Homo sapiens: one gene and its partners. The protein of the gene in region 3 interacts with the protein of the main gene of each other region in a biochemical or structural test. Each region holds a gene or a part of one and is shown on either strand. Other genes may lie near its edges.

What was found.
Region 1: the proteins of LNX1 (region 3) and SHTN1 form a complex in vitro, tested with the Homo sapiens proteins (2 studies listed by BioGRID).
Region 2: the proteins of LNX1 (region 3) and RPS6KA1 interact in a test that uses a peptide from one of them, tested with the Homo sapiens proteins (2 studies listed by BioGRID and IntAct).
Region 4: of the proteins of LNX1 (region 3) and PBK, one has a biochemical effect on the other in vitro, tested with the Homo sapiens proteins (2 studies listed by BioGRID and IntAct, with this or other methods).

What each region holds. Positions count from the first base shown.
Region 1 is NC_000010.11:116,883,163-116,890,189, reverse strand, and holds part of SHTN1 (shootin-1), read left to right. Parts: intron 1-3,623; coding exon 3,624-3,846; 3' UTR 3,847-7,027. UniProt on the Homo sapiens protein: Involved in the generation of internal asymmetric signals required for neuronal polarization and neurite outgrowth.
Region 2 is NC_000001.11:26,567,758-26,574,784, reverse strand, and holds part of RPS6KA1 (ribosomal protein S6 kinase alpha-1), read right to left. Parts: intron 3,337-7,027; coding exon 3,175-3,336; intron 2,937-3,174; coding exon 2,860-2,936; intron 2,610-2,859; coding exon 2,492-2,609; intron 1,562-2,491; coding exon 1,424-1,561; intron 707-1,423; coding exon 584-706; 3' UTR 1-583. UniProt on the Homo sapiens protein: Serine/threonine-protein kinase that acts downstream of ERK (MAPK1/ERK2 and MAPK3/ERK1) signaling and mediates mitogenic and stress-induced activation of the transcription factors CREB1, ETV1/ER81 and NR4A1/NUR77, regulates translation through RPS6 and EIF4B phosphorylation, and mediates cellular proliferation, survival, and differentiation by modulating mTOR signaling and repressing pro-apoptotic function of BAD and DAPK1.
Region 3 is NC_000004.12:53,476,484-53,483,510, forward strand, and holds part of LNX1 (E3 ubiquitin-protein ligase LNX), read right to left. Parts: intron 5,372-7,027; coding exon 5,237-5,371; intron 2,260-5,236; coding exon 2,082-2,259; intron 499-2,081; coding exon 270-498; intron 1-269.
Region 4 is NC_000008.11:27,820,814-27,827,840, forward strand, and holds part of PBK (lymphokine-activated killer T-cell-originated protein kinase), read right to left. Parts: intron 2,393-7,027; coding exon 2,250-2,392; intron 1,676-2,249; coding exon 1,506-1,675; intron 1-1,505. UniProt on the Homo sapiens protein: Phosphorylates MAP kinase p38. Seems to be active only in mitosis. May also play a role in the activation of lymphoid cells.

The DNA of each region.
Region 1 (7,027 bases), on a different chromosome or scaffold from region 3:
GTTGCATTAAAGTAGAAAAAAAAATTGAACAGAATGACAGTATATTACAATTCCCATTGAAGTGTTGCATTTGAGCTTCTGGGATTTCTACCTTGGGGAGAAGCTTCATATTTAACCCTCTAGAACCTGCCACCATGACTACTAGAGTGAGAACTTGGGTTCTTGGCACCATCACTGATGCGGCTCTGTGGCTCTTCCCATACGATAGGAATGAAGGTAGAATGAGGCCTAGGAGAAAGAAAGGACTCTCATTCCAGAAGGAGTCTTGGGCAGCTGCCCGTGGGAGCCAAGAGTGGACCTAGTGATGTCAAGCCAGGAGGAGCTACAAACCACAGGGGAAAAATTAAAACTAAGGGATAGCTTGAAGGGATAGACTTTATTTACAGATCTGGAAGATGGAGATGGAAACGGATTCGGAAAGAATGAAATCAGTAAACATGCCAAAAACTAGCCTGTAGCCTCCTGTTTCTAGGAGAAGATGCCTTTGAGAAACAGCATGCTGTCATGGAAAAGGCAGAAACAGGGAGACAGGAGCTTCTGACTCTTGTTCTGACTCTGCCACTGATGAGCTGTGTGGTTTCGGGCCAGTTCCTTCCCCTCTTCATGCCCCATCATCCTCATCTGTAAAAGGACAGGTCAGACTAGACGATTGCCCTAGTCCCTTTCCACCTTCCACTGGGATTCTAAGGCAGTGGTCATTATCCTTGAGAAACCAGTCACTCTCCCTCCATGCCTAGATTCAGAAAATGCCCACTGCGCCTAGTTCAGTGATAACAAAGGGGTTCTCAAATTGTAGCCTATAAGTGACTTAATAATAGATTAATCTGCAGTCAAGAAGCTTGCTTCAGGACAGGGAGATCGTTCTTTGGACTGAGACAATTCCAGGACAATTTCAGCCTGACAATACTAGGTTTATGAGTTTTCAGTTCAATCAACATCCATGTATTGCTGCTGTGGAGCCCAGAGAGCACTTCCTGGAAATTTTTAGCCCTGAGCTGATGAAGAAAGCTTTTTCTAGGATCTGTGCACCACCCCTTCACCTACAGACACACACGAGCATGGAAACATCCATGGTAGTTCTACAGAAGTGATGAAGGTTAGTATGGGTTGATGGAAGTTGCTCACCTAGAATGAGAGAAATACTACCTCCTTTGCATGCTGAAAGCAGTTTGACTGGCTTACATAAGAGTGGGCCCAGGCCCAAGATGGTGAAACCTTCGTACTGGTGACTCAATCTGCAGACTTGGATGGGACTTTCCCTGGAACCTTAGCTGGGCTGCAGCTTTATTTCCTAGAATCTCCTCACCTGTTTGTTTTCAGTTTAGAGTTGCCGACAGATAAATCTGCATGAGATTTAGAAGGTGGAAGTGAAGTAGTTGTCTTAAAAAAATTTTTTTTAACCCTCGGAAGGTCCGTGTAGGGCAGGCTCTGTTATAGCTTGTGCATGACATTCCTGATGTGCTGACTCACCTAACTGGCATGTGGCAGTGACTGGCCCACAGTTTCTCCAGCTCCCCACATCTCCTCCTCCAGCTTTTCCAAATCCTGGGGCAGGTGCATGTGCAGCTCCTTGGGGAAGGCTCCTGCTTATTCTGCAGATTGTCTTGCATCATCAAGATTGGTGCTTGTGAGAGAGAGATAGGTGCAGCTCTAGTTTGTCCCCAGTCTCTGTCACTTTACAGCCGCCTTCCCTCCCAACTGTCAGAACAGCTGACTGCAGGCCCAGTGTCAGACGCAGAAGCAGCAGATTTACACAGACGGCATGACTAGTGCCTCTCATTCCCTAAGGTCTGATTCCTCTGATCAATCCTTAATATTACTCATAGTTGTTCTGCTTCTCCCATCACAGGCTTTTAAATATTGTGTGGGTCAGAGAGAGTCAAAACAGGTACCACTGGAGAAACTACACCCCATTCTGATTCCCAAAGCATAGCGGCAGATGTCTGGAGAAGTAGTTCCTTGGCCAAGGTAGATGGACAATGTCATGGTGCCATAATCAGGCAAAAATAAAGGAATCTGTCCTCACTACAGCACAGCCTGTCCCCAGGCTCCTGATTATTTTTGTTTTTACCACCTCCAAGGAAGACATAGTGTTTGTCACTTAGGATGATGACCGAGCCACACATAGGTAATATAACCCAGTAGCCAGAGGGAGTGGTTTTTAAACATTTGGACAGATCTTACAGTACTGGTCAGAAAGTGAAAAAAGCAGTGTGGTCTTTGGGTTTGAGGTTTTGTGCCCGTGACCGGGTCATGCAGGTTACTTTTGCTCAGTAGTTGATCATTTGTTCTGTTGTTTTTGTTGCAAGAGAGACATCCAGACCTACTCACACCCAAACCTTGATTTCTCCCCCTTCATTCTGAACCCTTCAGTTTATTAGTATTTGCCCATTCGTTTAGTCCACAAATGCATCTGTGCTAGGTGCTGGGGATAGAATTGTGAGTAAAGCTAAACAGTCCCTGCCTCGTGGATGTTTACATGCTATTGGAAGAGACAGACAGGAAACAATTGTGGTAAGTCCAACAAGGGAGAGGTATTAGGTGGTAAAAGAGTGTCTCCTGCCAGCTCTGACCTGCTGAAGGGGTCAGAGAATAGTAGAAACCAACTCCTGGTGAGGGGCTGGTAGAGCAGTGGGCAGGCACTGGCTGGCAGCTCACTGGCACCTGGCGGAACACCAAGAGGTGGGATGGTGGTGTGCCGGGTCATGGTTAACAGCCAGTTCTCAGGGACAAAAAGGCCTGATCCTAGCATTTTCCAAAAAGACCAGAAAAGTCCGAAAGCCCCAGCCCTGCCTGCTGCAGCTGCCTCCACCTTCAGGCCGCAGCTCAGCAGCCTGAACCTTCGGGTGTTTCAGAGATATCTGTTCCCATAATGAAATCCTCACCCATTCAGCCTGAGAAGCCATAGCTTCTTGCAGCAGAAGAGACGAGAGAAGGAGTCTGTGGAAAACTGCCTCTGAAATTCCATAAGAAATTTCTCAAGAAACCTGATTCTCCTTTTAGAAACATTAATGGTAACTTAGCATTTTAGCTTCTACTCTGGCTCTCTCTCCGCCCTTGGTCCTACCACCACCCCCTCCTGAAGTCTGACCAGGTCTCCTCTAGTTGGTAATGGCAGCAGTCAGCATGCCTCTCACCTGTCCATCAGTGATGAGGGGTGATTACTCCCCTTGTCCCTGCAGGCTCCTCAGCACTACCCTGCAACCAGCCATACCCAGGGACACACAGGAGGGAAGGGAGTTAACTGGCTCCATCCAGCTAAGTGAGGGCGGGTGGGGGTCTGGGCAGCAGGCTGTGAGAAGTTCACAGTTTGTCCATGAGCTTTACGCTTCCTGAGAAGAGAATGCAATTAAGCAGGTAGGTGCATTTGGCTTTTTAACACTTCTGTAGTTAATCGCTCTTTCTCTGCCTTCTTTCTTCTGGCCTTGTGCTCCTAGTATCAGCTGTGTAATCTGATAGCTTCATTTTTTCTTTTAAATGGCTGGCATCTCAAAGACTACTATATGCATGTTGATTAGACTTAGAACATTTTGGGTTTTATGTTAGTCTGAATCCAGAATATCAGAGACAACTATTTTCTCTCTCTGCTTTTTACTTTTTTTGTCTAACTCTTCATCTCATAGGCCTCCCAGTAGCATTGGATGCAGGAAAAAATACATTGACGGTGAAAAACAAGCCGAACCAGTTGTAGTTTTAGATCCTGTTTCTACACATGAACCCCAAACCAAAGACCAGGTTGCTGAAAAAGATCCAACTCAACACAAGGAGGATGAAGGCGAAATTCAACCAGAAAACAAAGAAGACAGCATTGAAAACGTGAGAGAGACAGACAGCTCCAACTGCTGATCCATAAACCAGAAGCCTGACATGTTTGGAAGTCCTTTTCAATAAGCACATGATTAGTGTTGTTATATTGGCAAGGGCTGTAGACATTCTGCTCTGGTCACTGTATTCAGAATACAGGTTCTTTTCTGGTGTCACTTTTGTAAGTAGCAACTATAAACATAAGTAAGCTGTTTAGCAAAACACACATTCCTAGTAGGTTTTGGTTTTTTGATCTTTATAAAGATGAGGTTTTTTTCCTAGTTACTGTATTAAGTATGACTTCTTTTAGAAGGTTACAAAAAAATTCAGATGTTGATACCTTTTTAGGAAATGTGCATACCACTCATCAAATGGAATGCTGAAAGTTTGAGGTGCTTGTATATAATCGGATAAACAAAACTGATCAACCCAATGTGATTTTAAAAGCCCCCAAAGAAGCTTCTGTTTTGGGTCTGATCCTCTTGATGGAGAAACTGCAGCAGCATGGAAATTGTTGGGTACTGTGGCATACAAGTTATTTTCTACAGTAGACTGAGATAAACTGAAAACTCAGGAGCTGGCATCAAACTCGTAGTCCCATAGTCAGTGTTAATTACACACATTGTTAACTATTGGATGAAAAATACATGCTATTGATTGTGTCCAAAGCCTCCCGAGGACCTCCGTGGGGATGCTCTGGTAGCCTGAATACAGAACTGAGGTGAAAGTCCAAACCTTGAATTTTACAGTAGTAAGTTGGTAAACCATGTGCTCTGTGCTATGAGTTAATTATGTTTTCCCAAATACTAATGTGGCACAAGTACCATATTTTATCAGAGTTCTTATGTACAGTATGGTGAAGATAAGTGACAAGCACACATTTTTCTTGCTTCACTGCTGTTCTATATTACACAGGTTTGTTGTTGTTTTTTTTAAAAAAGAAATTAAGCAGTAGTTAGTCTCTAAAAATACAATGTTTCAGGCTACCACAGTGAATAAATAGAAATGTAATCAGGGATTAAAAAAAAAACTTATGCAGCTTTTCAAAGTTGATTGTTTCAAAATTGGTGTTTATTTAAAATAAGTGGTAATGTACTTGAATGCACTTTTTATGACAATGATTCAGTAATGGTAATTTTACTATTAAAGAAAGTGAAAGGTTTAGTTTTGTTAGCATGGCTCAGCATGTAGCTGTCAGGTGTTTTTCACCTAAGGGCAAAAGAAAATGATAGTAATAATTGCAGTAGTTGTATTGTATTGTATTTTTGCACGTGTGGTAAGCATAGGCTTGAAGAGGTGGGTAGGCAGGTACATGTACTTCCTAAATTTGGAGATAATTATCTTTCTGTAAGTTCGTTATGCTTGACTGTTTCCATGTTCTCCCAATAATGATTTTATAGTTACTTATCACTTTACTCATGGAGAATTAAAACGTAATGTTTTTCAACTGTATCTTTCTTTAACTGGATAATACTGCTATATGATATGCTTACTACAGACTGCATTAATTCACGAAACGAATTCTGTTATGCTGTAATTTGAACTCTCCTCACCACAACTTATTAAAAAGGCACCAATAGTTTCCCATTAAGGGTCAGTTGTGGTTATTATTAACGTTTCTGGTTTAGTTCCCCAAGCTTGACATTCTTTAATAGAAAATTGTATATGATTTGACAACTTTAGTAATTTTTAATAGTCCCTAAGATGGTTTATTGAGTTTTCTTTCATGTTTCTTTGTGCTGTCTTCCTTCTTGCATCTGTGATCTGTCTGCCAGCATGCAACTCACACACATTTAGGAATATAAAAATATGTACACTGTCTTTCCATATTTCATCACACCATCACAGAATAATATGGTTATCAAAATACCCTCCTTTCTAGAGTAAGAAGTTGCCCTTTGGGTGAAATGTGTTAGCTGGACTAGGGAACAATTAGTAACAGGTATTTTGAAAGTATTCCTGCCTTTTTTAAGCTGCTTACTTTCTCTCACTGTGATTACAAAGCATTTTAAATTAATTTGACATGAAGGTATTTGATGGAAGATATTCACTCACCTTTTTCTGCCTACAGTTTTTCCCTTTTCACTTTGGTTTTGAGGGGGTTTTGCCCCTGGCTGGGGTGACACTGTCAACCAAAGCAAGGGATCCCAAATAGGAAGACATAGGAGAACCGTGCTTATATCTGCAAGGTATGTTCATAGCTATTGCACACACAAAACTTACATACGTCCTGCTTACACAATTTTAAGTTGGAAAAGACTGCATCTTTATGTTTTTGATTTCTCTAAAAGGTTATTTATGCTTCCTTCTGTTTGGGAAAGATAAATTAAGTCTTGTGCGCTATAGAGGATTTTTTTTCTTTAAGAAAAACGAATGTTGATGCATTTTATAGCCCGAGTGAGGAACAGAGATAGAGGTACTTTGTGCCATTGCTATTAAAGAAAAAGAAAATGTCTCTTTTTTTTTCTGGAAGAATAAGATTTTAATTAAAGCACTTGCACCCTTTTGTATGTGAGCTGGTCTCAAACAAAGTCCTCACCCACAGCAGTTTCAGCAGCTGAACAGTCCCATGGAAGTTCTGACTGGCAGGCATCAACAGGGCTATTAGCACCCAGCATAGTTTGCCCTGAGTACGGAGGATGGATGCTTTGGCTCTAACTACTCACCAATAATTGCTCCTTCCTTACCTTCTTTGTTAATGGTAAACTGCTGGAAATGGAGTAGTACAGGTAACAATTATTTTTAATTGTCTTTCCAGACCAGTTTTTGGTTGTGTGTTCAGTAAATGATAGTCTGTATCACAGCCTTCAAGTCTGGATTATTTTTCTAAATGCATACTCTACCTGTTCAGTTACACTCGTTGTGGAACAACATTAGCTTATATACCAGTAAGTTGTCGAGAATGGATAACCATCTGTCATTATCACTGACCTTCAAAGACTCATCAAGCAGTCCCTGCATAAGGATTGGAGTGGTTTGAAGTTTCTCTTCCAAGCACTAACATGTCCCTATCCCACAGTCATTTTAATTTGGTATGTGACTGTTTCTTTCATTTCTTTCACAGATAATATTATATATACAGTTATATAAATATATTTCATATTAAATGTTATATAACACAAGAGAGAGAAAGTATAAGTAGAAAGAGTGCCTAGCACCCTAAGAAATTTAAATTAAAATGCTAATTATCCATTGGTGAGTGCAGTCTCGAGGATAGGTGAGT
Region 2 (7,027 bases), on a different chromosome or scaffold from region 3:
GCTGGAAGCCAGCAGGACATGAGACCCCTCCTGTAGCAGGAAGTGGTTCTAGAACTCCCAGCAGAACAGAACGGAAAAGGAGCTGATTGGGGATAGAATGAGTTCTGCTAAACAGCCAGATGCTCTGAGAGAGGTGACACTGGACTGTCTCGGAGGTGTGTGCAGATGGCTACAGGTGGCCAATCGTGGGGGTCCCCAGGGTGGGATCCCAAAGCTGCTCTAAAGAGTCTCAGAGAGCCCCAGCGTGACTCAGTTCCCCTCCTGGGGCCGCAATGGCTGTTTCTGCTCCCAGAAAGGCAAATGGATCTTGTAAAAATCCATGGTGGTTGATGCCATTTTTTTCATAAAAAAAAGTTTATACAGTGAATCGCTTTCCACCAGCAGAGCCTGAGCCGAGAAGAGTCCATCCTGGGGAAGGAGAAGGCACTTCTCACACCCTCATTAGGGGTGTTCTGGGCTGGCAGCTTCCCCGGCCCCTCGGGTTCCAGCTCCCTCTGGCCCTGTGGTTCCGGCCTGCTCCCTCTGGGAAGCATGCTGACTGTGTCAAGCTAGCACCGCCCTGTGGCCCGAATGCCCTGGTGCCTCACAGGGTGGTGGATGGCAACTTCCTCACTCGCCGCTGGGCCAGGATGGATGACTCGATGGGCTTCAGCTGGGGGGTGGGCTTGGAGCTGTTGAGTGCGGAGTACGTGGCAGCCATGGCTCCCTGAAAGAGAAGTGGGGAGGTCAGGTCACAATGGTGGGAGATGTAGCGGGGAGGGGATCCATGCCCCAAGGGTAGGCCAGCCCCTCTCAGTGTTCCACAGCCCACTTTTTTTGGTTTTGTTTTTGTTGTTTTTTTTTTTTTGAGATACAGTCTCACTCTGTCACCCAGGCTGGAACGCAATGGCACAATCTTGGCTCACTGCAACCTCTGCCCCCAGGGTTCAAGCGATTCTCCTGTCTCAGCCTCCCAAATGGCTGGGATTACAGGCGCTTGCCACCACACCTGGCTAATTTTTGTATTTTTAGTAGAGATGGGGTTTCACCATCTTGGTCAGGCTGGTCTTGAACTCCTGACCTCGTGATCCACCCACCTCAGCCTCCCAAAGTGCTGGGATTACAGGTGTGAGCCACCGCGCCCAGCCTAGCCCACTGTTAATCCAGCCTCAGTGGTCCTTTATGGTCATGGGTCCTGCCTCCCCCATCAGACTGGAGGGTTCAGAGGTCAGCAGCTGTGCCTTCCAGAGGATTGGGGGCTGTGAGTGCACCGTGACACTGTAGCATGTTAGGCTCCCTGACGGCAGGGCTGTGTCTTCTTCTCCTATGTTCCACCTCATGGTGCTTGGTACAGACATGGCATTGCCTGGCTCTTCCACAAGTCCCTGACCATGCCACCTTGGGCTGACCCCCCAGATGCCCAGCAGCCCAAGGGTGGCCATACCTTCACAAGCTGTAGGTCCTGGTGGGACAGCTGGCTTTGGGGAAGCTTGTCTTTCTGGGTGACCCATGGATGCTGCAGAACCTGCTTAGCTGTGAGGCGCTGGTGGGGATCCACGTGTAGCATCTTGGACACCAGGTCCTGGGGACACAGTGGGCAAGGGGGTTGGGGGAGGGCTGCAGGGGAGCAGGCCCCTGATGGGGCACAGGAGGGCAACCATCTCCTGCTAGCTCCCGCCTGAACCCTTGCGGCAGCCCCTGGGATCCATTCTCCACTCTGCTCCAGGGCTCCCCGCACACAGCCAAGGTTCCTGTCGCTGGGCCTTTGCTGCTCTAGGCCCTTCGTCCTGGAACACCCTTCCATTTCTCCTTTGCCTTCAAAAAGCCATGTGGGAAGGTGGGAAAAGCCTCAGGTTTGGGCTCAGACAGATTCAGGTTCAAAACTTGCCTTCTGCACTCATCAAATGAGTGCCCTGGGCAAGTTCCTTCAACTCTCTGAGCCTCAGTTTCCCTGCTGAGAAATAGGAATAACCACTCCCTGCCTCACAGGTTGATGTGAGGTGGCCGGCCGTACATAGAGGGTTCAACTCTGTCTGGCATACAGGTTCCCAATGACCAAAAACTGTTGCTAATACTGAAAGCTCACATGCTACTTCCTCCGAGGAGGCTCTGCTTGGCATGGCCAGTTGCTCTGCTCTGTGTCTCCACGGTCCACACCCCTGGCCAAGAGCGTCCGCCTATCTGTGCCTCCAGGCATCTCTGCCCCTTGTGTGCAAACCTGTATCCCTCACTACACTACGTTTCCACAAAGCCGGGACTGTGATGATGCAGCCCTCAGTGCCCCACAGGGTCCAGAATGAGAAGGGCCAATGAATGATCACCAGGTTACCCCAACAAGGTACGGAGGTGGTGGTGGTCTGCCTGGGAATCTTCCGCTTGGAGAAATACAGCAACAGGGATTTGTGGAACATCCGCTTGGAGAAATGAGGCTGTTCATGAACTGCTGAAAAGCCCTAGGATGGGACCCTGCCTCCCTCCTCCAAATAAGCCCACGCAGGCCGTACAGACTCACCTTGGCTGTCTCTGAAACTGTGTTCCAATTTCCCCCACTGAGGGTAAACTTCCCACTGCCGATCCGGGTTAGGATTTCCTCTGGTGTGTCACTGGGACCGTTGGCAAATGGAGTATATCTGCAGAAAAGCCCGCACGGTCTGGGTACAGACTCTGGCCTCCATACTGGGGCTGGGGCTGCGGTGGGAGACTGTGTCTCCCCCTCAGATGGGGTACTCCCAAGGTAGAGCTCCTGGAGGCAGGAGCATGTCCCTATTTCCAGACCATCCTGGGGCGGGGCTGGCTGAGCCATTCCTATCAGACAAGCACCACTCAGCCCAAGTGCTAGGGCTGCAGGAGTGGGGAAGGGTCCAGGCCAGGGGCACTCACCCTGCCAGCATGGTGTACAGCAGAATGCCCAGGCTCCAGATGTCGCAGCCTTCATCGTAGCCCTGGCGCTTCAGCACCTGGCAACAGGGCAGGGGAGGTGGTCAGTCTGGGGGGGCAGTAGAAAGTCGCCACAGATGTTTCCTGCTACTCCCCTCAAGGGCAGGACAAGGGTCCCAGGCACAGGCTAGATCTTCCCTTGCCAGCTGGGCCAAGGTCACAGAGACTGGAGTCCCGGCTAATGTGGGGCCTCTGGGAGGGGGCACAAGGCCTCCAATTCCCCCTCACTCTTACAGCTGAGGAGGCTGGGCCACTCACCTCAGGCGCCACAAAGTTGGCTGTGTAGCAAGGTGTCATGAGGAGCCCATTCTCAGCCCGCAGCTGTTTGGCAAAACCAAAGTCACAGATGCGCAGGCACTCGGGATTCCCGGACTCGTCCACATACAGGATGTTGCTGGGCTTCAGGTCCCTGTGCACAACCTAGGGGCAGGGGGCTGGGGTCAGTTCTCAGTGTGGGGAGGTGGCTAGTGGCCCAGGTCAGCGGCCAGAGATTAGAAAGCTACACAGACAGGGTGCAGAGGGACGGGTGCATGGACTTGGCATCCGAGAGAAGGGGAAGGGGCTGAAATGATGGTCTTATTGCTGCTGCTACTGACTCTGTGTAGGTGTCTACAGGTAGCTCTAAGTTAACCTGTCAAAACTGAACTCTCAATTCTCCCCTAAAACCTACTCATCACATAATCTTACCTTGTGGCAACTCCATCCTTCCTGTTACTTAGGTCAAAATCTTAAAAGTCTTTTTTTTTTGAGATGGAGTCTTCCTCTGTCACCCAGGCTGGAGTGCAGTGGCACGACCTCAGATCACTGCAGCCTCCGCCTCCCGGGTTCAAGCAATTCTCCTGCCTCAGCTCCCAAGTAGCTGGGATTACAGGCACCCGCCGCCATGGCTGGCTGATTTTTGTATTTTTAGTAGAGATGGGGTTTCACCATGTTGGTCAGGCTGGTCTCAAACTCCTGACCTCAAGTGATCTGCCTGCCTCGGCCTCCCAAAGTGCTGGGATTACAGGCGTGAGCCACCACGCCTGGCCCTATTTTCCTTATCTTTAAAATCAAAGAATACACTGCTTTACTTTTATCTGTAGCACTTCCCACTACTTAACATAATATTTAATTTGTTTTCTGAGTCTGCCCACCGGCATGTAAGCTCCCTGAGTGTTTTGCTCACTGCTGTATCCCAGCACTTAAACTAGCTCCTAGTACATGGCAGGTATTCAATAAATATCTGTTGAATGAATGGATGAATGACACTTACTGCTGAGGCCATAAGCAAACGGCTTTCCTCTGGGCCCTGTTTGCTCATCTGTAACTTGAGGGGGCTGAACCACCCCACATTTCATTCTTCTCCTCCCCACACTCTGTAAGGCTTTTTTGTTTTGTTTTGTTTTGAGACAGGGTCTGTGTTGCCCAGGCTGGAGTACAGCAGCATGATTCATGGCTCACTGCAGCCTCAATCTCTGAGCTCAAGTGATCCTCCCACCTCGACCTCGCAAGCAGCTGGGACTAGAGGCATGTGCCACCATACCCAGCTAATTTTTAAAACATTTTTTGCAGAGACAGGGTCTCGCTATGTTGCCCAGGCTGCTCTTGAACCCCTGGGCTCAAGTGATCCTCCTGCCTGGGCCTCTCAAAGTGCTGGGATTAAAGGTGTGAGTAACTGTGCCTGGCCTGTACAGTTCCATTCATAGTCAATCCTCTAACTATCAACTACCAATACCTCTCAGATCTCTAACCCTAGTCCAGAACTTTTCCTGAGTCTTGGCTCATAAATCCAACTGCCTACCACAAGGCAACCACTGGATGTTCCACAGAGCCTCAAACTCAACACATCCCACACTAAACTCCTCATGTTCTCATCTTCCTGCTCCTCCTCCCCTAAGCTAATGGAACCTCCCTGGGCATTGTCAAAAAACCTTCAAAGGCTCCCTACCTGCAAGATAAAGCCCAAAGTCCCTACCCTAACATGGGAGGCACAGCCATCATCTGTTCCAGCCTCACTGTCCATTGCATCCCTCAGGTGCCCTGAGCTCAGGCCACCAGGGGCTCCTTCGGTAACGATCATAACCCTATGTCTGTGGAATGCCCGTTCACCTTCAGCACCCAGTGCAGGGCCTAGCACAGAGCAAATGCTAAGTGAACTTTGTGCAATGAATGAACAAATCACACCTCTGAAACACAGAGACAGATACCTTGCAGGTTAGATTAGTAGAGTTTTGCAGGTTAGTTGGTTTTATTCAGATAGTCTTTTCATAGTCTCAGTTGATCTCCAAGCCCTCCAGCAATGCCCGTGGAGCCCGTGGAGTAGGTAGACATGGCCCAGCACAGTCCACCTCCATAGGGAGAAGAGTGCCAGGTAGATGAGGGGGAAAGGGCCACACTGTTAGGGTAGCCCCAGCAACACACTGTATCCAAGCCTTGGAGAAAGTCCCGTGGGCTCCCTCCTTCAAACACAATCGTATGCCCACAGCACAAGGCCAGGCCCCCAGGAATGTGGACTCTACCTAGAGGTCAGGGATGCTCAGCTTGGCTGAGGACACCAACTACCCTGCACAAGTGAACTTCCAGTTTACAAAGAATGTTACCAGTCGTGATCTCACTGGAGCCATCCACTGCACCTCGGCGGGTGGACAGGAATTATTAGCTCCATTTTACAGAGGAGAAAACCAAAGCTCTGAGAGGACAATTTTCTTTTTTTTTTTTTTGAGATGGAGTCTCGCCAGCAGCACAATCTTGGATCACTGCAACCTCCGTCTCCCAGGTTCAAGCAATTCTCATATCTCAGCTTCCCAGTTAGCTGGAATTACAGGTGTGCACCACCATGCCTGGCTAATTTTTGTATTATAGAAACAGGGTTTCACCCTGTTGGCTAGGCTGGTTTTAAACTCTGGCCTCAAGTGATCTTCCCACCTTGGCCTCCCAAAGTGCTGGGATTACAGGTGTGAGCCACTACGCCCAGCCTGAGAGGACAACTCACTTGCATGTAGGTTAGAGGCAGAGGCAAGACCAGAACCCAGTTCTGACCTGAATTCCATAGTCTTTCCAGTTTAGTGTGGCACACATGACACTACTGGGACACAGGGATATGGAAGTTGACCTTTTTTTTAAATTAATTTATTTTTCTGAGATGGAGTTTTGCTTTTGTTGCCCAGGCTGGAGTGCAATGGCGTGATCTCGGCTCAGTGCAACCTCTGCCTCCCAGGCTCAAGCAATTCTCCTGCCTCAGCCTCCCAAGGAGCTGGTATTACAGGCATCTGCTACCATGCCCAGCTAATTCTTTGTATTTTTAATAGAGATGGGGTTTCATCATGTTGGCCAGGCTGGTCTCGAACTGCTGACCTCAGGCAATCCACCTGCCTCAGCCTCCCAAAGTGCTGGGATTACAGGCGTGAGCCACCACGCCCGGCTCAAGTTGTTGATCTTTTTTCCTACCCTAATACAACATAGAGAAACTACAAATTCCTATAGGAAACTGTCTCACCACTGCCAGTGGCAGAATAGTAGGGATGGTGAGTGGGGGAGGGGAAGTACAGCTTTAAAAAGCCCCACAGGTGATTCTGATACCTGACCCTCAGGAGTGTATGTTGGGGGAGGAAAAGTATAGTCTCACATCTCACCGCATGGAAAATCACAACAGGCTGGGCAAGTAATGAGTGAAGCCAGGCAGAGTGGGAACCTCCAAGCAGTCCACAGAGGACAGCAGCTACCTGGCTCCAGCTGACAGTCACTACATAGCAACTCGGACCCAGTGTTTTTAAAAGCAGCCAAATTACCAAACCTTACTAAACCATACCTCAAATCAAAAAACACCCCTTATCTTGCAGGCCAAACAAAATATATGTGTAGGCCAAATGCAGGCACTGGAGCAATAGGCCGTGACCTCCAGGAGAGTTGGGATTCCAGTCACAGGAAGGAGTCGGGCAGGCCAGGGTGTGAATCCTGGCTTTACTATCCACTCACAGCTGTGTGGTTTTGGGCACGACATTTAACATCTGTAGCCCTCAGTTTCCTCACTTGTAAAATGGGGCTGATAATAGTATTCAACCCCAGGCTTATAGAGAAGGACAGGAATATTTAGCAAAGGGCTTGGGAAATGATGGACATCACAGTAACCCCA
Region 3 (7,027 bases):
CTACACAGCTGTACATGGCAGTCCTGTGAGCTCCTCAACCTGAACGCCAAACAGTATTTCCACATCCAGGCTTTTGTCTTTGCCCTAGAATGTCCGCATGCATTTTCAGTTACAAATGGGAAGAGAGAATTATTTCACAGTCCCACAACCAAGACTGGGTCTAATTAAGATGCTAGTGCCATGAATCAGCCCTAGAGAGTGAAAGAGTGGTTTAAGAAATGTAATCGTTTTCTCCCACGCCCCTACAGGGATGTTGTGTTTGGACTTACCGTGGTAATTCCAGCCACATGACCCAGGATGGGGACCAGTCACTGGGTGGGGCCATGTTGTGGTTGGAGTCCAGGGCTGCTGGGCTGCTGCAGTCTTCCTGGGGCTCATACTCTTTGACTTCCAAAGCTTTGAGTACTATCGAGGATGATGTTCTTTTCAATAATGCCACTGCCTCACTCCGGCTGACCTCTGTCAGTTCGACCCCATCCACATTCAACAAAATGTCACCTGATGGCCAGAGAAGCAGAAGCTATCTTTAGTGAGAGCACAAACAGGGACTTCTGCTTAAAGTGCAAGGGGATAGGGGCTGACTGGGATTGCAGGGATGCAGAGAGGGCAAAGGTTTTCTTTGTTGACGGGAGGCTGGGTGCTCACATAGCAAATGGTAAACAGTGTGTGCATTCCAAGGTGCTGTTAAGACTTGTTTGGGGTTTTCTAAAGCACAGCTATCGGTGTTTTACACAAGAATACCGCTGAAGGAAGGAAGGAAGGGAGTGAGAGAGGAAAATTAGTCTTGTTCACTATTTAATCAAAGAAAACCTACTTTTTCACTCTTTTGTTTCTTGTTTTTAGCATAAAGTAGGAGGATTTGGCAAAAGCTCCAGCATTTGCACGGAGCCAGGCATGTAGTAGGCCTCCAGTAAATATGGATTGAATGAAAAGAAACTACCCATGAGAGTGTCTGGCAGAGGAGTCTTGGAGCTGCACTCTTAAAGAAGCAGAAAGAAAAACATTTTCATTGCTAAGGTGAAAATAGCTACTATTGGTTAAGCGCCTACTATGTGCAGGATCATTTCCATATAGATCATATAATCCTCTAGCTTATGTTCTGTTAACAAGTCATTTGTTAACAAGCCACTTTGTTTGGCCTCATCATTTTCCACCCAGATGTTTTGCAGAAAAGAGAAATTAAAATATACATCTCCCCTATTTCCATTTTCTATTTTTTTATCTTCATCCTGTTTTTTTCTGTCCCCTTTTGCTTAACTTTCTTATACAGAATAACCACAGCAAGAGCAAAAAGACAGGAGGAGAAAAAAGAGAAAGGCCTTGAGTCCTTTCTGACCCGAAAGAAGCATCTTTCAGACAGCTGACTAAATCTCTTAAGATACCATCCCCCTGTGGCTCCTCAGGCTCAGCAGCTGTACTTGGGAAACTTCACAGTTTATCTCTTGAACCTGGACTTTTAAATGGCATAATTCCTCACCCATCTGAGCTACCTACCCTCTTGAATGAATTGACAATATTATTAAGGATACATATTTGTAGAGGCAAATTTGATATCATCTTCCTTTATTTACTCAAAGTAGCCCAGAATACATGAGCTTAAAGTAGTGAAATAATTTTCACTCTGGGAAAGTATCCAGCATGATACTTTCACTTAATGAGTATTCATTGAATCAAATCTATCAAATGACTTTTTCTATCTAACCCATATAATTGAATAATTCATGAATTATTTCATGAATTCCACCACCGGATCAACCCACTAAAGAACCACTTAGAATGAATGGAACTACATTATGCCATTTAATAGAGGTAACTTGCTCATAACTGTAGCAGTTCTCTATTAATTCCTGGAACAGTTTGGAGATTCTAGCTTTACTTGCAGGCAAGTTGGCCTGCAACTAAGAAAAGTGGAACCTGGTCTAGTATCTATACTCAAACCAATCATGGTCAATGGGTAACAAAAGTCCTGGCCGATCACTCCCACATTCTCTCATTAATTTTGAAAATAGTCACCTAACAAGCTACTAATTTCTCTTGATTCTCTGCCACCCCAGTGCCTTTAAAATCCCTTTACTTTTTACCTGTTTTTATTCTTCCATCTCTGCTTATGACTCCTCCGGGCTCAACACTGATGACATAGATAGGCAAATCCCATTCTCTATGTGATGCTCCCCCTGCGACGGTCATGCCGAGAGATTCACCGGGGTCTTTTTGGATATTTACCACCTTCTCATGACAAGTAATTGTAGGATGGAGGGGCTGAAGGCACAGATGGAAAAACATGGCACATGAATTCACAACTCTGGTAGTTTTTGAATGTAGAAAATGCAAAGTGGGTTTCCATTTTCTAAATGCAAAAATTACCAAAGCTGCATAAATTATGCAAAGTGCATAAATACAATGGTGGTTCTTGAAATCACAGAGAAAGACACCTGGAAAGAACCCTCACCTTATCCACTCCCAACCATAATAGGGTTACATTGTCCCAAATTCTACAGGTTAACTCAGATAAAGTTTACACTTCAAAAGGAAAGAGTAAAAATGGAGGAAGGAACCGATTACAGACCATTAGAAAAATATATTTCTAAAATATTTTCATAGAGAAAAAGTATTGCTTTGTTGCTCAGGCTGGTCTGGAACTCCTGGCTCCAAGTGCCTTGGCCTCCCAAAGTGCTGGGATTACAAGCATGAGCCACTGCTCCTGGCCATGGAGGAATCTTAAGCACACAGAGTGAACTGCACCCAAAATTTCTCAAGTGAGTCATTTATTCCTGATAGTAGTGAGTCAGCATTTCAAAAACACTCTGTCATTTATAAATATCAGAAACTTTTCTATGTTAAAAAAAAGTAACCATATTTTATAGAGTCTTCTTTCACACCTGCTCAGTGCTTACCAGGCAGCCTTGCCTGCGGTGAGCAAGAGATGTTTAGTTGTGCACTGAGGGGCTGGATGCAATGGCTGAAATACCACAAATATGGCATGTGTGCATGTGTCCTGTCTCATGAACCAGTGTCCATGACCATTTCCTTTCTTAACCAGAAAAGCGACCAATGTCAGCAATGGAAAAAGAAAATCATCTGTGAAAGCTTCACACCCAGGGTTACCTGACTTTGGCTGGAGAGGAGGAGAGTTACGTATGAAAGAGATGACTTTTCTATCTATCTTTTTTCGCCATTCTCCTCACCCTACTTTGGACACCTTACAATGTTCCTTGATGTTTAAAAACATAATTTATGGTAAAATAGTTTAAGCTAATTAAAAACACAATGGGTACCTGAATATTTCTCAAACTATAAGATGTATTTCCATTTTAGAATATTTGCTTTGGATATTTAGAATAAAACATTTTAGACAAGTAAAAAAGCATAAAGAATAACAGAATGACCTACCCATGTACCTCAAAACCCTACATCAGAAATAAACATTCCATGTGCACTTAGTCGCTCTATGACTCTTTCTGCTCATAGGCCTTGCCTCCCCACAGAGGTAAACCATGCAAAATTTGATGCCTAGCATTCCTTAACTTTTTTAATTGGCTAAAAGTTTTCTGTCCCACAAATCCTGCTTTGTCTTCTTTGGTATTTCTTTGAATTGTTTAAGCTCTTATTTTTAAAAAGCTACCTGGTTTCCTAAACCAAACAAGATTTTAGTAAGAATATAAAAACTGAAATAATCAAAGAGCCATATATGTCTCAGTTTTTTTAAATATGTTACTTTTTTGTGAGGATATTTCAGAAGTCAGATAGAATATAAGTTAAAACGGAAATAATTACAATTCCGACTAAGTCAGTTTGCACGTTTCCAGGAATTAAGACATATGACAGAGGGTTGCAGCAGAAATGTGACCAGATCCTCCCAGCTCTTTCATGATGAGGAGGTGGAAGGAATTCTAAAACCACAGTGCAGATGGAGGCTACCTTCTCCATAATTTGATGACTTAGAATATGACGTATTCTAGTTAATTCAACTAAAATTAGTTAATTGGATAAAAACTTCAATTAATTAATTAAGCTAATAAACTAGTTTTTCATTAATAAAGATGATCAGTTAAATTTAAACATTAAGCATTTACTAGCAAAAAGACATCACGGAGTCCTTATCCATAAAATGTTTTAGCAGGATATATCTGGTCTGTCTAGACTCCTTATTGTAGAGAAACAGGTAATTTATGGATTTATGAGGCTTGGCTGGCTGGAGAACCTGGAGGGGTGTATAACCTTGTAGGCTATGTAATTAACATAGTATAAAGCAGAGATGTTCCAAAATAAAAAATTTGAATATTGTTTCTCTATATATTACTCAAAAACTCAATTTGTAAGCTATTCCAACCAACATATAGATTGACGTAGAAAGAAAAGGGCATTCCCTACTTTCTGTTGCAAGAAGAATGAGCTACCTTTAAGAATTTTTTTTAGTTACAAGTGATGCCATGAAACCAGAACTCAGGAGAGATGACTGAAAGAAGCTCATCAGCATCACAACAGGATGCCAAGCCAAAGCTATAGGACTCTTAATTTGGACTAAACAAGGTTTGTGTTGCTTAAACACGCATCCAAATGAAGAGGTTAAGGCATTGCCTCTAATAGAAGCCACAGAGAGAAGTACAAATTGGGCTGAGTCACTTCATTTAAAGTGAGGCTGCAAACTGGTGGCCTGAAGAATGAATTCCACCCACAGATCCACAGTGTTTTAGAGTTTTCTGGATTTGAATGCCATATAACATGTGCTCTCTGGTTTGCCCCAATCCCCACCACTCCCTAATGTTACATGAGCTTCAAGTGTTTAAATTATCTTCCTGGGCCCTTCGGCAAACACAAACAAAAACTAAAAGTAGCGGGGAAATCACTCATTTCTAGGCAGACTGAAAAATTCAAAAGCCAGAAACCAGGCAAACTGCTTGCTTCATTTCAAAGTGAATAAAATAAGTCCTCAAACAAGATGACTCTTGGTAAAAACATGCCATTTATTTGGCTTAGGCTAGAAATCAGGTCCCTGTATGAGGTCTGCATGATCAGGTTTCAAAACTTTCCTGCACCTTCTTCTCTCCTGCTTGGATGGGAGACACCTGTTATCTCTCCAAGTCTTAAATATGGGACTTTGGGCTTTTAGTTTTACAAGTCAAAGTGTTTCTTTAAGTAAAAAAGTCCAGAGATGACACTTAGACATGTTAAAACAAGCAGCCTTCCCAAGAAATAGCCCCTTGCAGGAGCAGGCGACCTGCCCTAGAGGCCTCACCTTGGGAGTGTTGCTCCTCTCCCCTGGCCCTGGGGACCAGCTGCCATTGCTGTTCCAGCCGGCTTCCTGAAAGATGTCAGGGCTCCGCTGCCGAACCTGGCGGGACACGACGAGGTGAACACGTCTTTCACTGGCCTGGGCAAGAAGACACAGGCATTAGCCACTGTCAGTTTCCATCCACTGCATTCAGCACCAGGAGCTTACAAAAACATCACTTTGATTATACCATTTTTTTATGGCAAAACATGATTTCTAGTTTGTTGGGTTTTTTTGTTACTATCCATCTTGTAATTTGCCAAGAGCATGAGAGCTCTTTCCTTTATCCTTAAACCAGGTAGTAAATGTTGCTCCAAGGGAAAACTAGGGAAGGTTTGGTTCCTTCCAATCTTTGAAAAGGCATCATCAGATATTGCTAATTCATTTTTAATTAATGGTTGTACCACACACAAGCCATGCCCTAAGTTCTTCCCAGATAGAATTAGGTGCACTGTGTAAAGTAGCAGCCCAAAGCAAAGATCTAAGATCAATGGTACACAGTAAAGAAAAAGAGATGGAGTTAATGGCAGTAACTTGCCACTGCAGGAAGAGAAATCCTGAGCCTGACACTTGCAAATATTTGGGCATAGGAAAGGTTTAGCACTTTAGAAATATGGGGATGACTTCATACATTAATATGTACAACCTAATCAAAATCCTTTACCTTCAATTCACAATCACAAAGACATGGAATCAACTTAAGTGCCCATCAACTGATAGGTAGATAAAGAAAATGTGGTATGTATATACCATGGAATACTACTCAGCCACAAAAAAGAATGAAAAAATGTCTTTTGCAGCAACTTGGATGGAACTGGAGGCCATTATTTTAAGTGAAGTAACAGAGGAATGGAAAATCAAATACTGCATGTTCTCACTTGTAAGTGGGAGCTTAGCTCTGGAGATGCAGAGGCAGAGTAATATAATGGACTTTGGAGACTCAGAAAAGGGGAGGGTGAGTGGGGTGAGGGATGAAAAACTGCCTATTTGGTACAGTGTACACTATTCAGGTGACAGGTGCACTAAAATCTCAGACTTCACCACCATACAATGCATCCATGTAACCAAAAACCACGTGTATTCCTAAAGCTATTGAAATACAAAATGTTTAAAAAACTGCAAAAGAGTAATTTGCCTTGATTTCTTTATTTTTTATGGAACTACCAGTTACTCTGCTAATTCTCTCTGCTATGTACATTGATATTTGGACAGGCATTCAGAATAGCAAATATAGTACTTATTGGAAAGGTCCACTCCACATCATCGATATGGTTTGACTGTGTCCCCAGTCAAACTTCACCTTGAATTGTAGCTCCCATAATTCCCATATGTCATCGGAGGGACCTGGCAGGAGGTAACTGATTCATGGGGGTGGGTCTTTCCCATGCTGTTCTCGAGATAGTAAGTCTCACGAGATCTGATGATTTTATAAATGGGAGTTCCCCTGCACAGGCTCTCTTGTCTGCCACCATGTAAGACATCCCTTTGCTCTTCCTTCATCTTCCACCATGACTGAGAGGCCTCCCCAGCCATGTAAAACTGTGAGTTCATTAAACCTTTATAAATGACCCATTCTCGGGTATGTCTTTAATAGCAGCATGAGAGCAGACAAATACAATGATACATTTACAAATTGTCTTTCTGCCACAGATTAGTTTCACATGTGTCAGGTAGTATGGGCCATTATTCCAGAATTGCTGACCATTGAGATTTCAGAGCTGCAGGTCATTCAGACTAAATCTTAGACCTATGAAA
Region 4 (7,027 bases), on a different chromosome or scaffold from region 3:
GCGTTTCAAAATTTTTTTTTTTTTTTTTAAAACGGAGTCTCACTCTGTTGCCCAGGCTGGCATGCAGTGGCACGATCTCGGCTCACTGCAACCTCCGCCTCCTGGGTTCAAGTGATTTTCCTGCCTCAGCCTCCCAAGTAGCTGGGACTACAGGCGGGCACCACCACACCTGGCTAATTTTTGTATTTTTAGTAAAGACGAGGTTTCACCATGTTGACCAGGCTGGTCTGTCTCGAACTCCTGGCTTCAAGTGATCCGCCTGCCTCAGTCTCCCAAAGTGCTGGGATTACAGGTATGAGCCACTGTGCCCAGCATTTCAAAGTATTTGAAACAAGAGAAGGGAACATCCCATGTTATCTCAGTCTGCCATACTGACCAGAAGTCTAAAAGTTTATTTAGAAATAGATACTTCTGCTAACCTTTTATACTTATAAAATAAATAATTATAAGTTAACTATTTTTTTCCAAGACAGAGTCTTGCTCTTGTTGCCCAGGCTGGAGTGCAGTGGCGCGATCTTGGCTCACTGCAACATCTGCCTTCCAAGTTCAAGCGATTCTCCTGCCTCAGCCTCCCGAGTAGCTGGGATTACAGGTGCCGCCACCATGCCCGGCTCATTTTTGTATTTTTAGTAGAGATGGGGTTTCACTATGTTGGCCAGGCTGATCTCAAATTCCTGCCCTCGTGATCTGCCTGCCTTGGCCTCCCAAAGTGCTGGGATTACAGGCGTGAGCCACCACACCCAGCCAAGTTAACTATTTTTATATATAAGTATGTATATATACCGACAGCTTATAAGTTAACTATACTTATAAATTGGTTAACTTGGTAAGTTAACTAATCCTACATACTTTATATCAGAAGATACAACTGCAGATTTCAAAAGATACCACAATTTTGAGGCTAGTCTAGTAATTTTTAGAAATAATTTTGGAATCTTCAGTGAAGCATACATAAATTGTTGAGACCATGTGGGACAATGAATGACTAGGGCCACATGTACGTATAAGGATGTTTTGGTCAATGATGGACAACATATACGACGGTGGTCCCATAAGATTATAATATCATATTTTGATTTTACCTTTTCTATGTTTTGATATGTTTAGTCACACAGTACTTACCACTGTGTTACAACTGCCTATAGTATTCAGTACAGTAACATTCTATACAGGTTTGTGGCCTAGGAGAACTGGGCTATATATACCACATAGCCCAGGTGTGTAGTTGGCTCTACCATCTAGGTGTGTGTAAGTACACTCTATGATGTCCGCACGCACAGTGATGAAACTGCCAAATGACACATTTCTCAGAACATATTAAGCTACACATGAATGTAATTTGGAAGCAGAAATGTAAGCCTCTATTTTGTTTTCCGCTAACCCCTTTTTGGAACTGACAAGTAACAATATCCATCCACATTCAAAGATGTCCTGCAAAGTGATTATTTGTTCATTTAAAATATGAACAAAAACAGAAGTCATTTAAAATATAATGACATAGTTACCTTTAACCCTCTTGCCATATTCAAAGCAACTTTTAAAATTATGGCTGCTGGAAAAGGATCTTGGCTGGCTTTATATCGTTCTTCTATTAAGTCATTTAGAGACTTTTCACCTCCATATTCCATAGCAAGACACAGACTGCCATCATTGGCTTCAGTAAAAGCACGATAACCTTAAAGAAAACATGACATTTCTTCACTAATATAGAGAAGAACAATAATATTTAAGTCCTTTATAGTAACGTGATTGAAAATATGGATCTGGACTAACGCTGACAAATATACAATGAAACAGCTACTATTTACAAGACTAATTCAGTAGATCTCATTTAAAATGCCTTCAGTGTTTGCCAGTAGTACCACAAATTAAAATACTTTTATTTTCCTTTGCTTCCCTAAATATAATAGTTTCACCAGCCCTACTTGTATTAAAAATGAAAAATGAAATCCAGGAAATTACCTAAATGGATTTAAATTATCTAAATGAAGATCATTTTATATTCTTAAAATCTTCATAGAACTAGCAACATAATTATTATATCTGTTCTCATGAAGTTTATATACTTAGGCATCAAAAAATACTATATGCAAATTTTTATTTTAGACCAATCACATTAATTTGATACCCATTAAATATCCAGCCCCATCCTCTTCATTTCTATTAGTGAAACCAGTTAAGAGAGCATATAAGCTGTTTCTGAATAAACAAAATAATATACCAGATACTGCTACCAAATTTAAACGTACCAACAATGTTTGGATGATGAAGGCTTTTCAAAATCTTAGCTTCATCCATTAGTCTCTTTTGATACACACTTCGATAATGATCATTACATATAGGATTAATCTTTTTTACAGCCCAAGGAGAATGAGACAAACCTCTTGGAGATCTAAGAAAAAAATTCATTTAAAAAGGATAGAAAACAATAAAACCACAATACTTTTTAAAATGACTTCCAAATTTTTGGGAAAAAGCTTGAAAGAAATTTGCTTTTAAAAACAGAATTTAAAATAGTTTGGACTATGAACACCTCTGCTACATTTCCATTTCAATTGGGAGGTAAGATCTAATATACTAAAACAAGTCTTACTATCTATACTGTGGAAGGGAGAGGATGAAAAGAATTTGAAGGGTAAAGATGGAATGTTACAAACTTTAAACCTGAAAATTGTAACTTTCCAATTTTTCCATTTGAGCATGTTGGACTACAACTTATTAAATATTTAATTATATGTATCAGAGATGAGTTATAGGATCCTGAAGAAAAAAACATTAGGAAATTTAAAGAAGAGATAATCAAGAACATTTTACCCATATATCATCATCCAAAGAACAGCATGCTGTTCTTATTGCTCCCCTACACTGACCAATTCACCTTATACCTTTTACCACATGCTCAAAGATATGTGCTTAAGGAGATAATGATGAACATACAAATGAGAAAATTTTAAACTTTCTATTTTCTAGGAAGATTCAGCCATTTTACAAATATTTAAGGTATAAATGTTTTAAGGCCTAAATAGGTAAAATAAAGTCAGGGAAAGGTTTACCTGAGGTGGTAGATATTTATGAGTAGAGCAAATCACAAAATACTTAAGTATATGCAGCATAACAGCACAAAACCTAGTGAAAGAGCCTCAGAAGTTTAAGACAGAAAGTTTAATGGTAAGAACACAAAACAAGAGATTGAATCAAAGATCTGTTTAGCTTTGGACTCCCTCACAGGTATAGCTCTAAGACTGCAGAACCTTTTTTGTTTAATCAAAAAGCCTATACTAAAAGGATCACAAGATTTCTTAATTCATGTACATCTATCATCCGTAAGTTGATCTAAACTATTCTTAAACCTCCAGTTTTAAATAACAGCAGCATTTGAGGATAATGATGAGCACCTGCATATCATTTTATTATGAAAAATATATTTTTCAAATTTCAAGGGTTGAAAGTTTAGCTCTTGAAAGTTTAGAATTTAGTAAACAAGTCAATCTTCACCTTTTCCATAACATATTCTAATCTATCGAATAAGAATAGATTTATGAAATCTGAATACTCAACCATGCAAAAAGCTGGTTCATTAAAAAGACTAATAGAAAAAAGGCAAATTTCTGATGAGATTACACAAGAAAAAATAAAGACAATATCACAAATAAAAATGGAAACAAAACTACAGATACAAGAGAAAAAATATGTAAGTAAATAAAATCTTTATGCAATCATTTAAGACAAAATGGTCAAAGACTTAGAAAAATCTAAGAAAACTGATGAATGAAGAAATTTAATCACCAGTTTAAAATGTTCCTACTAGAAATACAAAGTGCAGATGATTTTACAGGTGAGTTTACTAAGCTTTCAAAGAATTTACCATTCAATCTTATACAAACTGTTTCCCCAGGGAACAGAAAAGGTACTATGAGTCTCATATAACTTTAATTTTAAAAAATCAAAAGGGACAGTAGAAAAAGGAAAACCACAAGCCAACTTCACTTATATCAGATGCAAAAATTGAAATAAACTTTAATATTAGCAAACTGAATCCATCAGTTTATTTAAAAATACTACATCAAAACTATGTTGGATTTAACCAAGAAATGCAAACTTGATTTAACAAAAAAAATATAGACTTCTGGGTTAAAATTGTAGCTTAAACATACACATTGTTTTTATCCTTTCCAAGCCCACTAACATAATAGCAAATGGATATTTTTTAGACATACAAGCCAGCAAGAATGGAAATAACAGCAGAAGAGACAACAGCAACAAAATTTCAGAAGCTGGAAAGCAGAAGAAAGTAACTGACTTAGCCCCAATGAACTGCTTGCAAGTTATTTAAAAAGCACGTAGGCCTGGAAGGGTTAGCACACAACTATAATCACAACACTTTGGGAGGCCAAGTCAGGAGGATGACTTGAGACCAGGAGTTTGAGACCAGCCTGGGCAATATAGTGAGACCCCTTCTCTACAAAAAACTTTTAAAAGTCACATGTGGTGGCCCACGCCTGTAGTCCCAGCTACTTGGGAGGCTGAGGCAGGAGGATTGCTCAAACCAAGGAGTTTGAGGCTGCAGTGAGTTATGATGGCACCATTGCACTCCAGCCTGGGCAACAAAATGAGACCCTGTCTCTAAATAATAATGGTAAAAAACAGGTGGACTCGTAGATACCCTCCTTAATTCTGTACCAACTGGCAGCTGCCCACCCCCCTTCCCCAGCTTCTAAAGATGGTAGACTAGCTTTGGAAGGTATAAAACAAGTCTTTAGCCTGAGGTTTACTGTCAGTTGAGAACCTGTAATACAGAAGCAGGTTAATAATTAATCACCATATGCATACTAAATGCTCAATGAGTTTTTACATGTGCATATACCTGTGTTATCAACACCTAGATACCGAACATTTCTAGCACTCCAAGAGACTAAAGATGCTATTTTTAAAAAGATAATTAATTAAAAACAAGATAAAAACTCAATAGAATTGTTGAAAGATAAAGCTGGGGAAATCTCAGAAAAAAGATAGCGAATAAGAAAACCAAGCAAAAAAGAGGTAGATGAGAAATCAGTAAGTTCAACATTCAAATAATTGGATTCCAGATGGAGAACAGAGAAAAAGAGGTGAAAATCATCAACAAAGTAATTTTTAAAATAATGTCTCAGAAATTTAAGAACAGGAACTATTCAGATTCCAAGATCCCCACATCCACTCATGTCATTGTGAAATTTCAGAATGCTACCGACATACAGAAGATCATACCAGGATCCAGGACAGTGGGGGGGACAGATAACATAAAACGGATTACATATGAAGAATTAGCAGTCAAAAAGGCTTCATAATTCTCAACAGCAACAGTGTAAGCTAGAAAAAAAACAATGTCAGTGACTGATATTCTCAAAATTCTGGAGGGAAATTGTTTCCAAATGAGAATTGTAACCCAGAAAACCAAAAAGGGCCATTCAAGTATGAGTAAAATGAAAACATTTTTGGAAATGCAAATTCTCAAAAAAATATATCTTCTGTGCACCGATTCATGGGGAGCTACCAGATGTCCTAAATGAAAACGGGATGTAAATCAAGAAATAATAAGACACAAGATACCTAAAAACACAGGATATAATTCAGCAGAGAAGCATAGGAAATTTGCAGGTTATGGATAAAAGAAATCCCAGGTTGACAGGGCTGAATCAGGAGGAGTGTAGGGTCAGGCAGGCACTGCTGTTCTTCAAGATCAGCTATTTGCCCAGCACTTTGGGAGGCCGAGGCGGGCGGATCACGAGGTCAGGAGATCGAGACCATCCTGGCTAACACGGTGAAACCCCGTCTCTACTAAAAATACAAAAAATTAGCCGGGCGTGGTGGCGGGCGCCTGTAGTCCCAGCTACTCGGGAGGCTGAGGCAGGAGAATGGCGTGAACCAGGGAGGCGGAGCTTGCAGTGAGCCGAGATCGCGCCACTGCACTCCAGCCTGGGCGACAGAGCGAGACTCCGTCTCAAAAAAAAAAAAAAAAAAAAAGATCAGCTATTTGAAGCTTTTTGACTAAACCACATACAGTGTAACTTTGTTAAAAACACTTTACATTTAAAAACTTTTTTTAAAAAGGGGGAAAAAAATGAAACTAGCCATAAACCTGTGAGAATTTTTTTCTTTCAAAATAGGAGTTAACACTAAAAAACAAATTAGAAAACAATACCATACAAACATACAAAAAAAATGTTTAAACTGCAAAAATGCTTCAGGAATACCCATTGTATATAATTACTAAATTATTCTTAATTAGCCTCTTATTAAAGAAAGCATTTCTATCTGGAAACAATGTAAACCTAGATGAAGCTAAGATACGGAGGGTTGGACTAGTTAGACTGATTCCAAGAATGCATTAAGGAATATATATTGATGTAGTTGTTTGCCACTTAATAAACATGAAACTAGGTACAGAGTAATGATTAAAAGAAGTAATTTTGGGCTGGGCATGGTGGCTTACACCTGTAATCCCAGCATTTTGGGAGGCGAAGGCGGGCAGATCGCTTGAGGCCAGAGTTCGAGACCAGCCTGGCCAACATGGCAAAACCCTGTCTCTACTAAAAATACAAAAATTAGCTGGGTGTGATGGTACACGCCTGTAATCCCAGCTATTCAGGAGGCTGAGGCAGGAGAAGCGCTTGAACCTGGGAGGTCGTGCCACTGCACTCCAGCCTGGTCAACAGAGTGAGACTCTGTTTCAAAAAAATATATGAATAATAAAAAAGTAATTTAAAAAAACACTTTGTTGACAGCTATATTGGCACCATACTTGTTCGATTATTTCATTTTTCTTAACACAATATTCCTACTTTAAAATCATGTATTTACCCTTCTTAATAACAATGCCATAAGAAATGAAAATCTTTTACTTCTTTTAGAAGAGCATATCTTAGGAGGGCAACGCTGCAGAAAAGACAGCAGTCACTGACATCACCCAATACTGGCTTCCTCTTTGAGGTTTTCTCATGAAGAATCTGGTTTAATTACCACAAAGGAACCCTTTCCCCTGCCACTT